2 linked regions of the Homo sapiens genome follow. The main gene of each other region encodes a partner of the protein of the gene in region 2 in a complex. Each region holds a gene or a part of one and is shown on either strand. Other genes may lie near its edges. A codon is read from its position in the direction of its gene.

What was found.
Region 1: the proteins of KCNQ1 (region 2) and KCNE3 are in contact, whole or in part, in a cryo-EM structure (PDB 6V01), measured with the Homo sapiens proteins. Residues at the interface, in NP_000209.2 of Homo sapiens: Arg116 (codon at 2,755), Pro117 (codon at 2,752), Thr118 (codon at 2,749), Gly119 (codon at 2,746), Trp120 (codon at 2,743), Cys122 (codon at 2,737), Phe123 (codon at 2,734), His126 (codon at 2,725), Phe127 (codon at 2,722), Phe130, Leu134, Leu137, Ile138, Val141, Leu142, Ile145, Gln147, Tyr148, Arg181, Met238, Val241, Asp242, Gln244, Thr247, Lys362, Asn365, Ile368; in NP_005463.1 of Homo sapiens: Asp54 (codon at 3,185), Asp55 (codon at 3,182), Asn56 (codon at 3,179), Ser57 (codon at 3,176), Tyr58 (codon at 3,173), Ile61 (codon at 3,164), Met65 (codon at 3,152), Phe68 (codon at 3,143), Ala69 (codon at 3,140), Val72 (codon at 3,131), Gly73 (codon at 3,128), Leu75 (codon at 3,122), Ile76 (codon at 3,119), Leu77 (codon at 3,116), Tyr79 (codon at 3,110), Thr80 (codon at 3,107), Arg81 (codon at 3,104), Ser82 (codon at 3,101), Arg83 (codon at 3,098), Val85 (codon at 3,092), Lys87 (codon at 3,086), Asp90 (codon at 3,077).

The regions. Positions count from the first base shown.
Region 1 is NC_000011.10:74,454,220-74,457,712, forward strand, and holds the end of KCNE3 (potassium voltage-gated channel subfamily E member 3), read right to left. Parts: intron 3,385-3,493; coding exon of another isoform or gene 3,345-3,384; coding exon 3,033-3,344; 3' UTR 622-3,032; downstream 1-621. UniProt on the Homo sapiens protein: Ancillary protein that functions as a regulatory subunit of the voltage-gated potassium (Kv) channel complex composed of pore-forming and potassium-conducting alpha subunits and of regulatory beta subunits.
Region 2 is NC_000011.10:2,440,199-2,448,198, reverse strand, and holds the start of KCNQ1 (potassium voltage-gated channel subfamily KQT member 1), read right to left. Parts: upstream 3,192-8,000; 5' UTR 3,101-3,191; coding exon 2,715-3,100; intron 1-2,714. UniProt on the Homo sapiens protein: Pore-forming subunit of the voltage-gated potassium (Kv) channel involved in the regulation of cardiomyocyte excitability and important in normal development and functions of myocardium, inner ear, stomach and colon.

The sequences.
Region 1 (3,493 bases), about 72 Mb from region 2:
CCGTTGTTCCAGGCCCCGAGATCCCTGGAGTTGCCCTGGTGTCTGCAGCTCCTTCTTTAAACTTTGAGCTACCCCATACACCTCAGAAATTCCCTTTTGTACTTATGCTAATATACATCAGGTGCCTGTAACTCACAACCAAAATAATTTGTATTATTTTATGATTATGCCCATGGAGTGTGAGGACTGTGTGAAGGGGAGCCTTCTCCACTGGGGACACTGAAGTCATGGAGTAGCCCCAGGAGGCCTGCTTCCTGCTGTCTCCCCAGCCTACCTGCCCTCTCCAGGAGGGAGCTCCCCAACATCTGCCTCCAAGCTTCCCTGATCTTGATCCCTTCATTCACTCTGCCCATTTAGCTCTGTCCTAGCTTTCAAAGCCCAGTTCAAGTTCTACCTCTCTCAAGTTCTACCATGGGACCTAAACTGGGCTGAAGGTACATGAAGGTGCTACAGCAGAAACACCTCTGTGGAAATACTTGTAAGGAATACCTACTTACTACATAGGGTTGTTATGAGGGTTTTAAAAGCTAAATGAATTCAAGTGTCTGACTCCTCCTAGTCAATTTCATTTCTCAAAATCCTTATGGCATTCATCACCTAACCATTCATTCTTACACCCAATTGCGTTCCATATTTTATTTGGAAGTTTGGGCTGGGTGGTGTCTAAAGTCCTATCCACGTAAATTTCTGAATCTGTTGTCTTCCCATATGTCACATCTCCTTAAGGAAGTCTCCACCTTCTCCCTCAAGAAGAGATGAGGAAGGGCTTGAGCAACAGGGCTCAGCACAGGTTTGCAGAGCATCAACATAACTGCATATGGCAGCAAATGTGTTCCATGATCCTCCATTCAAGAACCCAAAGGCTTTTATTTTTATTTTTTCAAAATAGAAGTACCTTTTTTCCTTTTATTATACAAGTAACATACTTACGGTCAAGTCAGTCAAATATTACATAAATTTATCATGCGGAAAGGGAAAATCACCTATAACCCAATTCCTCAGAGATAACTGCTGTCAGAATATTATTTCAGAGTTCTGCTATACACAAATACGCATGTTTCAATGGGTACTTCCAGGGACCGCATGGAGATCCCTTAAGTTGAAACTGGACAAACAGAACAGTGGATGGTTCTAGCTGAGATCTGGGATAGTTTCTGAATTCAGAAGTGTTCACCAGCCACATTGCATGTATTAGCTGGAACCATATATGAAACTACGATACTCAGCTGTTTCTAACCTACAAACACAGTGATTACATATGGCTCAACTTAATGTATATGAAGCCTAGAATGTCAGAACTGATAGAGCCTTAGAGACTTTCAAGTCTATTTCATTATGTTGAAGAGGAAAACGGATGAGGGAGAGAAGTGTCCAGCCTAAGATCATACATCACCTTAAGTGGTAGAATCAGGGCTGCTTCTCTTCCTACTGGACCATGTACCTGTCTCTCATACTCTGCTTCTTTTAATATAATAATAATTTAGGTGCGATATCAGTCTTTTTTGTTTTTGTTTTTGTTTTTTTTTGAGACAGAGCCTTGCTCTGTCACCCAGGCTGGAGTGCAGTGGCGTGATCTTGGCTTACTGCAACCTCCACCTCCCGGGTTCAAACAATTCTCCTGCCTCAGCCTCCCAAGTAGCTGGGAATACGGGCACCCGCCACCAGGTCTGGCTAATTTTTGTATTTTTTTAGTAGATGGGGTTTCACCATGTTGGCCAGGCTGGTCTCGAACTCCTGACCTCAGGTGATCCGCCCACCTTGGCAGTATCAGTCTTTTAGAAGCAGATTCAACATGACATCAGAAAACTTCTCTCAGATAGTCGTGGTGGCTTACACTTGTAATCCCAGCACTTTGGGAGACCAAAATGGGCAGATAACTTGAGGACAGGAGTTCGAGACCAGCCTGGGCAACATGTGAAACCCTGTCTCTACTTAAATATATATATATATATATATATATAAATTAACTGGGTGTGGTGACAGGAACCTGTAATCCCAGCTACTCAGGTGGCTGAGGCAGGATAATTGCTTGAACCCGGGAGGTGGGGGTTGCAGTGAGCCAAGATTGGGTTGCTGCACCACAGCCTGGGTGACATAGGGAGACTGTCTCAAAAAAAAAAAAAGAAAAGAAAAGAAAAGAAGTTTCTCACATCACTCAGTCAAAACTGAAAAGACTGCTTGCTTTGGAGGTAGTTTAGTCCTGTTGCCTGGCAATGTGGCTGGGAAGTGCCCTGTGACTTGGTTCAAGAAGCATATGAACCATAGAGCTAACGAGGCCTAACATTCAGGGTCCTGACTCACATGAGCTCCTTCTTAAGGTCCTAGCAGGGGCCCTAGCAACATATTAATGTGGCAGTATATTTTCATAATGTTTGCAAAAGTAAGATATTTTAGAATTCTTTTTCTTAAAGAGAGTCCCCAGAATTGTATGACCTTCAGGCCTGGATCCACTCCTGTGTAGCACAGAGTTTTGAAAAGCACTAGGCAAGGAGACCAGAGTTCCTGGGTTCCAATCATGGCACTATGCAGGCCCAAATGGGCAGCACAGCACTTGCCCTGCTTTCTTCACGGGAGCGGGGGCAGGGTGGTGGTGGTAAATCATATCTGTGATATGGGATAGTCATCACTGCTTCTCATGGCTGAAGATAACACATAAAAAATGTGTCCCCAGAGCATCTTCCTGTCTCATTTCCCTCTGCTACAACTTCTTCTCCGTTCTCCAATCCCCAGGCCCCTAATACTCCAGCCACTGAACCAGTTATTGGTCATTATCTGTTGCTACTTTTATATGTTTGTTCATGGGCTCCCACTGTTTATAAAGTCTATCTTTTCCTGGGAAAAAATCCTTATGCACAAGGCTTCGGTCTACCAGCCCCTCTTCTCCCACCCCAGTGACGACCTCCCTTAACCGTGTTTCTTGTTGATCTTACAGATAGGGACACTGAGACCTGATGCAGTCCACAGCAGAGTTCTGGAGGCCCCAGACGCAATCCCCAGGTGTCTTGGTCTTCCACCGTCCCAGCCCTCTCGTGTTAGATCATAGACACACGGTTCTTGATATACACATGATAGGGGTCACTACGCTTGTCCACTTTGCGGGAGCGGGTGTATCCCAGGATGAGGCTGCCCACAGTTACAGCAAATAGAAACATGACAAAGAGAATGTACATGTAGGAGTTGTCATCACGGCCAGGTAGGCTGGCCCGCCTCTCTTCAGTCTGGTTGTCTGGCCCCAGCCCTGGCCCTGGCCGGCAGAGCAAATTGCTGTGAAGAGTGGCATTTAGAGCCTTCAGCACGGCATGCAGGCTCTCATACCAGGTCTCCGTTCCATTGGTAGTCTCCATAGCAACAGGGATTGAGGTGGGGGAAGACTCGGTAGAAGCTCTGGTGGCAAAAGAAAAGAGAGAGGGGATGGCTCTGTCACCTGCAGCTCAAATGACCTCCTCCCTTCAGATCCCAGGTAAAATCTTAGCATCATGGCTGATATGGTTTG
Region 2 (8,000 bases):
TCAGCAACCAGAGTAGATGCCACCTGGATGTCCACACCCCTGGCTAAGGCTCACAGCAAGGGAGCTAGGACCGCTGGGTGCAGCAGGGCTGTATGGACCCCCATCCCCTCAGCTAAGATGGGAGCTGCCCCCAGTGGGGGCGCAAGCAACCACAGATAACTGGGGGTGTTGGGGGCAGGAAGCCTAAGCGGGCAAGAGTTGTGGCCCAGGTGCCGTGTCCACCCCGGCCAGCCCAGGGAGGCCAGAAGGAACACAGGAAGAGCTGCTCTCCTGGGGAGGGGGGGTTCCCCGAGGAGGGGACAGGATATCCTGGCTGGCTTCCCCAGGCGCACACAGGAGAGTTCGCCCTAGCCCTGTAGGGTCAGCGGAACACCGGCTCCTGCCTCAACCCCCCTGCACACATGCCTGGGCCCTGGCTCTTCAAGGCCAGGCTTGTCGTCTTCAGGCCAGAAACCACAATATTTCTCATTTCACAATCCACCTAAGGACAGGGCCCTGTCTCCGCCACCATTGCCAAGACTTCTTACAGCAACACAAGGCTGGACTGGCGCAAGGCTGGACCTGATTTCGTGAGGCTGCAGGTGGCCTCCAGCTACTCTGCCATCCTGGTTCTATGACCAGGTCTCCCCTCAAGAGACTGGTCCTGCCAACCTCCTAGGGCACTGAGGGTGGGAGCGCATCTCCCAGGCCCCCACCAAGCCACATGTCCTGCCCAGTCAGGGTCCACCTCCAGTCCCACCCCACATGGAGGTACCTGGGTTGGAGGCTGTTCATGACAACTTCCCAGGGCCAGGCACACGTCTTACAAGGACAGGACCCAGAACTGGAAAGGACCAGCCCCAGATCTGGCCACTTCACAGAAGCATCCCTTTCCTGGCCACCCCTTCACAGAAGCCATCCTGCCCCTGTCCCCAGAAGCCACCCCTGCCTTGCCAGCTCTGCGGAGGCTGGGCGAAGGTAGACTCTTGCTGAGCAAACTTCCGAGACCTAAACAATCCAAATGAGGAAGAAAACACAAGTGCAAGCAGAGACTTCCTCTGGGGCGTGGCGAGCCCTCTTCCTCCTCTTCCTCCACACGGGTGGCTGCAGTGAGCCCGGAGGCATGTGTCCACAAACCTGAATACAAGTGAGAATTGAGGGGGTCTGCGGGCACTTTGCCTTGGCCTCTGGCTGAGGAGGTCTTCCCACCCTTGGACATCTCAGAGAGTCTGGGGTCCGGGAGGCAGGTGGCCACCAGCACACAGCACCTGTGAACCTGGCATCTGCTAGACATTTGCACAGTGGCATCGGACTGGGTTCCCCTGGGGTCACTGCACACAAATATCTCCCAAACCCCAAGCCGAGCCCCCGCTGTTGCAGCCACGAGCAGAGCCAGCTCCTCTCACAGACCAGCAGCGGCTGTGGCTCAGGCACCCACTGACATGTCAGGAGACAGGGGCTTGGGAGCTGGGGTGGGGAAAAGTCTCCAAGATCACCCCCCAACCACATCTTTGAGGAGGGAGGTGGGTAAGACTTCCCCTTCCTGATGTGGAAGGCCACCTCTTAGCAAGGAAGGCAGTAGCCCTGCGACCCCTACCCCACCCCCTCACCTGAGACGATGCTTGAAGCCATTTGGGGCCTGGCTCCTGCTGTCACCCGCCCTGAGGCCCTGGTGGCAGCTGCCAGCAGGCATGGACAGGCCTCTGGATGCCCTCCAGCCAGTTCTCTACTGAGCCTGCCCGAGGCAGAGGAGATGCTTCCACCTGAGGACGCTCAGGGAGACCACCCTTCAGCCCTCAGGTGAGCCCCACAGCCATCAGCCATGGGATGTCTGGGTAGAGGCTCCCAGGCCAGAGGCTGGCACCACACCAAAAGGCCGCTGGCTGGGCAGCCAGGAAGTAGGGCCACTGGGGCAGCGGGGGAAGGCCCCAGGCAGGCATGGAGGAGAGCAGCCTGGACCTTCCCGGAGGTGACTTCCCAGGCCTGTCCCTGAGAAATCCAGTGCCCAGCCCTGCTCAGGCACGCTGTACCGGGAATTGGAACCACCTGGTAACAGGGGGGCCAGGTGCCTCTGCTACCAGCGCTGCTTTCTCCGGGAGCACAGCTGCCTCTTAGTGAGAGCTGCAAACGTGCCTCTCCGCTCTCTGCATCAAGCCAGGTTTTCATGAGCTTGGTTCAATTAGTTAATGTGGGGCCCGTGGGGACGGCCCGTGGCATGCTGAGCCCTCAGGGAGCACCGCCACCGTCACCTTCCTATCCTGGACAGCCCCCTGCCCCAGAGTCCACCTGGGCCTCAGGGGGTCTGAGATGCGGCACCGGACATCAGGGGCCTTCTCTCTTGGGGGCTCCTGAGCCTCGAGTCTCAGCCGACCTTGAGGAGTTATCTTACTGCACCCAAGGGTGCGCTCCCCAGCACGCTTCTCTTCCCAGAAGGATTCACACCTGGACTACCCTCCCGGAGGTGTGGAGCCAAATTCTGGGCTCCAGGTGGTCCCCTCCCCAGCCGGCTCCCTCCCCACGCCGGGCCTGCGAGAAGATGCGCACCCCCAGACACAGCAGCGCCTCTGAACTTCAAGGGAGAGTGCAGAGTTTGTGTTTCTGCGTTTCCCCACTTCCTTCCCTCCTCTGCTCCGGGGTCGCAGCTCCGACGGGGCAGGTGGCGCTGGGACAGAGCTCCCCCACACCAGCTCTCAGGAAGCACCTTCGTGCCGGCCGTCGCCGGTGGCGATACTCACACGGCGAAGTGGTAAACGAAGCATTTCCAGCCGGTGGGACGCTCGAGGAAGTTGTAGACGCGGCCCTGGACGTGGGTGCGCGCCAACACCGGGCGGCGCGTGCTGTAGATGGAGACGCGCGGGTCTAGGCTCACCGGCGGCCGCGGGCCAAGGTCGGAGGCAACTGGGGGCGCGGCGGGCGCGGCCGGGGACGCAGGGGGCGCGGGACCTGGGGCGCCGGGCGCGATGGGCGCGTAGAGCGCGCCGCCCGCCGGGCCGCCCTCCGCCAGCTCCAGCGAGAAGGGGCACTTCTTGGCCAGGCCCGCGCTGCCCCGCCGGGCGCCTGGCAGGCGGCCCCAACCCCAGCGCTTCCTCTCGGCCCTGGGCGGGGAGGAGGCCGCGGCCATAACGAGGAGGGCCTGCCGGGGGGCCGGCCCGAGCGGCGGCACCGGGAGCTGCAGCGAAGGCGAGCGCCCGGGCGCAGTGCGGGCAGCCACTGCTGCCAGCCCCGCCGCGGGGGGCCGCTGCCGGCCCAGCCCGGGCGCTCGGGGCGGGGCCGGAGGGGGCAGTGGCCGAGGGCCGGTCCCATGGGACGGCGTGCCCCGCCCCCGCCTGCACGCCCCGCCCCCGCCGGTCCGGCGCGCACAGGGCGTCCCTGCCCGCGCCCACCGGCTTGGCCCGCCCTCTCCCCACGGACCGGCCTGGCCCTGCCTCCGCCTCACCCCCTGGCTTGGCCTGTCCGCGCCCCCGCCCCCGCCTGCGCCCCCGCCCCCACCCCCACCCCCGCCCGAGCCCACCTGCTTAGCCCCGCTCGTGTCATCTATCCCGCTTGGCCCCGCCCCCTCCTCGCCCACCTGTTTGGCCCCGTTCCAGTGTGCATTTACCCCGCCTGGCCCCGCCCCCTCCCCGCCCACCTGCTTGGCCCCGCCCTCACCCACCTGCTTGGCCCCGCCCCGTCTGCATCTCCCCTGCTTGCTCCTGCCCTGCCCTCACCCACCTGCTTGGCCCCCACTTCTGATGCCCGCCTGCTCTGCCTGGCCCGGAGGAGGACCCCAGCTGCGCCAGGGAGGAAGGGGTAAGGCCTGGCCGATACCACGACCGAGAACGGCACAGCGGGGGCAGGAGGGGCGGGGTAGGGTGCCGGCATCTACTTTCCCTCCCTCTGAGCCACTCCGGAGTTGGGGTTGGGGGGAGGAAAGGGATGTCCTGGGTGAGGGTGTGCTGGCCCCGCGATCACTGTGAGCGCCCCCGGGTGCCCAGGCGCGCGAGCTGCGGGCGGCGAATACGCTCGGGTCGCTTCCCACCAGGGCCCTTGGACCGGGAGGGTGAGATGGGACCACCACTGTCAGGTACCTCCCAGTGGGAGCTGTGTGGGTGGGGAGCCGGCAGGGCTGCTGGGGGGTGGGGGCGGCACAGCCGGGGTCTGGACCTGGTTTGACTGCCGGGCATAGCAGGCGGGGCTGCCTGGGCAGTTAAAGGGAGAGGCGCTTGCGCCACCCTAGTAACTTGGAGAATGGGCGCCTTGTCCTCCCCACCGTCGAGACCGCGCTGCCGCTGCGCCCCGTGGATTCCCCTGGGTGGGGGTGGGTTGGTCACATCGGAAGATTTTCACAGGTCTCTGCACTGCCTCCCGCCCGCTACTGGCATTTGGGTCTCAGCACGTCTCAGGCTTGGGGGGGGGGTGGGGGGCAGCCAACAGAAGAGACCGGCTTTTTTCAGGATACTGCACACAGCCCTGAGGCAGGGACTAAAGGTGGAGCTCAGCGGTGACTCTCCGCCCCGCCAGGAGACCCATAACTCATGTGACACTTCCAGGTCGTCCCTGAGCACCCTGGGTCAATTTGATGTATCTACCACCCCCTGCCAAAAGTCTGCTCTTTTATCGTGGACGGAGTCCAGCCCAGGCCCTTGACGCCTGACTCCCCACCCTAGTGAGGTGCCACACAGGAGTGCACAGTCTGTATTTGCAGCAAGAGTGGATGGAGTGGGTCCCAGCTTGTGCTGGGCGCTGTGATAACACAAGGGAGGCCGAGGAGAGGGTACCTTCCTGGGAAGCATATCAGTGAAGGTGCAGAAGGGCAGCGGGTCAGAAGATGGGGGCAGTCAGTCAGCTCTGCAGGGCACACAGCACGCATTCAGCAGTTACTTTCCGGGTGAACATACATACACCTGCATGGAGTCTCTGCCTTCCCCTCCCACCTCAGCAGGAGGAAGGTGAGCTTTGAATAAGCAGCGTTTGGACAACTGGACAGTCATAAAGAAAGAAAAAGCATACCTTGGGTCCATCTCACCGCACACGAGAATAAATCTCAAATGAATCAGAGGCTCAAGTGTAAAGGGTGAGATGAAGCCATGCAAATTCTACAAGAATGTACAGGTCAATTCCTCAAGAACCTGTGAATCGGGAAAACATTTCCAACTATGACTTGAAATCCAAAAGCAACAGATAAAATAAGAAAAATTAAAATAGAAGCACCATTAGCAAAGTAAAGGAGACAAATGACCAAATGGGAAAAGTATTTGCAGTTTCGATCACAAAGGATTAATATCACTGATACATAAAGAACATCAAAACTGAGGTGAGGAACCTGCCAGACAGTCCTATAGAAAAGGGAGCAGAAGACATGAGCAGTTCATAGGAAATGGGGTTCATGACCTTTGCACTTATGAAAAAATGTTCAACCTCATTTATAACAAGAAAAATGCAAATGAAAAGTACACTCTGATACCACTGCTTGCTTATCAGATTGGCAAAAATCCAGACTTTTGATGGCAACTCTGTGGGAGAGGCAGCAGGCACAGGTGCACTCCTCATCACTGGTAGAAAAGAGACCTAGCGATATTACTAAATGTATCATTTGACACAGAAACCCCACTTCTAGGAAATAACCCAAAGATATGTAGGAAAAATAGAAAAGTACATATACATAATGATAGTCAAAACAGCATTTTTTATATTAGCAAAAGTCTAGAGACAATCACAATGTCCTTCAATCGCTTCAGCTGTGCTGTGGTACAGTCACACGATGGAGTGCCATGATCAATATGATCACTAATACTCAACCAAAGGATCCCAAAGAACTCTGTGTGTGTGTGTGTGTGTGTGTGTGTGTGTGTGTGTGTGTGTGTATCAAAGAATGATGCTAAATTCCTTTGGAACCAAGATTTTCAGTATAAAAGTGATACAGATTTAAAAAATCAAAGAAGTACAAACCAGTCCTTAAATTGAATGGACTATATTAGCATAGACTCCTCAGCTATTTTATCTTAGGAAAAAGGTATATCCTACTATTGTTCATTGTCAAGTTTGAGAAGGGGCTGATCAACAATGGGACAATTTGAGCATCAGAAAGAGTCATGGATGAAAACACATCAAATAGCTGAAAAGCCCATGCATTCATGATAATACTGAAAAATCCTATTTGATCTTCTGCAGGTTGCTTTGCTCATTATTCTGAAAACGAGTGAAAAGGCAGGGCGGTCAGGCAGGTCAAGCCTCCATATTTTAAAAATTCTAGGCCGGATGCAGTGGCTCACACCTGTAATCCCAGCACTTTGGGAGGCCGAGGCAGGCTGATCGCTTGAGGTCAGGAGTTTGAGACCAGCCTGGTCAACATGGTAAAACCCCGCCTCTACTGAAAATCCAAAATTAGCTGGGTGTGGTGGCACACACCTGTAATCCCACCTACTCAGGAGGCTGAGGCAGGAGAATCACTTGGACCCGGGAGGCAGAGGCTGCAGTGAGCTGAGATCGCACCACTGCACTCCAGCCTGGGTGACAAGAGCGAAACTCCATCTAAAAAAAAAAAATTCTAATAACTCACTAGGGAGGCTTCTTGGAGGCCCCCAGGGCTGTCTCCTGGGCCCTGAGCTGTGCCACAGCCTGCTGCTCTGGGGGTATGGGGTCCCATTGGCTTGGGGACACTGAGGCAGGAGAGAGACTGGACAAGGGATTGTCTTCAAGCTCCCTGCAAGCTCCAAGGAGCTGAAGGGGGATGGGTGGGGAACTGAGAGGAGGGAGTAAGGCCAGGTGCGCAGGTGAGGTAAGGTGGGGCTGGGCTGGGCTGGGTGTGGGCTCAGGTGAGGCCAAGGGCTGAGGGTGGGGGAGTAAGGGTGGATGGCCTGGTAGGACAGACAATACAAGTGGGGCCTGACCGAGCCCAGTGGCCACTCTCTGTGTGAGCAAGGAGGTGAGGAGGGCCCCCATCAGCTGAGGGAGCAGGACCGCAGGGTTGTAGCCTCCCAGCTGCCACCTGCTCTCTCCAGGACACACCCTCCACTGAGGAAAGCCCCTCCTCTATCATTCCGGTGGGTGCACATGTCCAGCCCTGGCTGTCCTAGATGCAAAGACTGACAGACCTATCAGCCAGCATGAACAGGAAGGCAACCCTCTCCCAGCCTCTCAGGCTCTCAGGCTGTCCCAGAGCCTCAGAACCTTCTGGAAACATGGCACTCAATCTACCTCACACCAACCTTCCAGGGCTGTTTGCCGACATCCCTCAGCTCACCAGGCTCACCTCATGTTCCTCCAGCAGGGTCAGAGGCCCACAGTGGGAGGAGCCTCAGAAGTCACCAAGAATGCATGAGGAATGGGGAAGCTGAGGCTGACCAAGGGAAGGGTGTGTGGCTGCTGTGAGATCAGCATCTGCGGGCCAGGGCTGGGCTGCTAGAACAGCCAGGCCACCACAGGCTTCCTGGCCAACATCCTCCTTCAGGTAGTCTTCCTACCTATTCATTCATTCAATCATTCGTTCATTCCCCCAGATCCTCGCAGAGCACCGGCTGAGTGCCAGGCGCTGTTCTAGGCGCAGGTTACAGAGCTGTCTCACCACCAGGTAGTGGTGGGACAAAAAAAACGAAGGGGGCACAGGATGGGGGTGCAGATTGTGGAGGGTGGTCAGCAAGGGTCCCAGGGGCGTCTCCACAGAGACCCTGGAGCAGGCCCTTCAGCAAATCTGGGAGGCATTTGCTGTTGGAGGAGGACTCTGCATGCAGGAGGCACCCAATGCAGAATGGATGGGAGGGTAGGAGATGGGGCAGGGTGGCTGGACAGAGCCACCACCCTGTATTCCTCAAGCTGATGTGTCTCTCCAGAGGATCCTTATGCCTGGCGAATGTCTCCTATGGATATGATGCCCTACATCTGTAAGGCATCACCCCATTTAAGGCCCTGCTGTTCTTTTTTAGATTCAGAGGGTATGTGTGCAGGTTTGTTACATAGGTATATTGCGTGATGCTGAGGTTTGGGGTATGGATGATCCCATCACCCAGATAGTGACAATGGTAGCCAATAGTTTTTCAACGCTT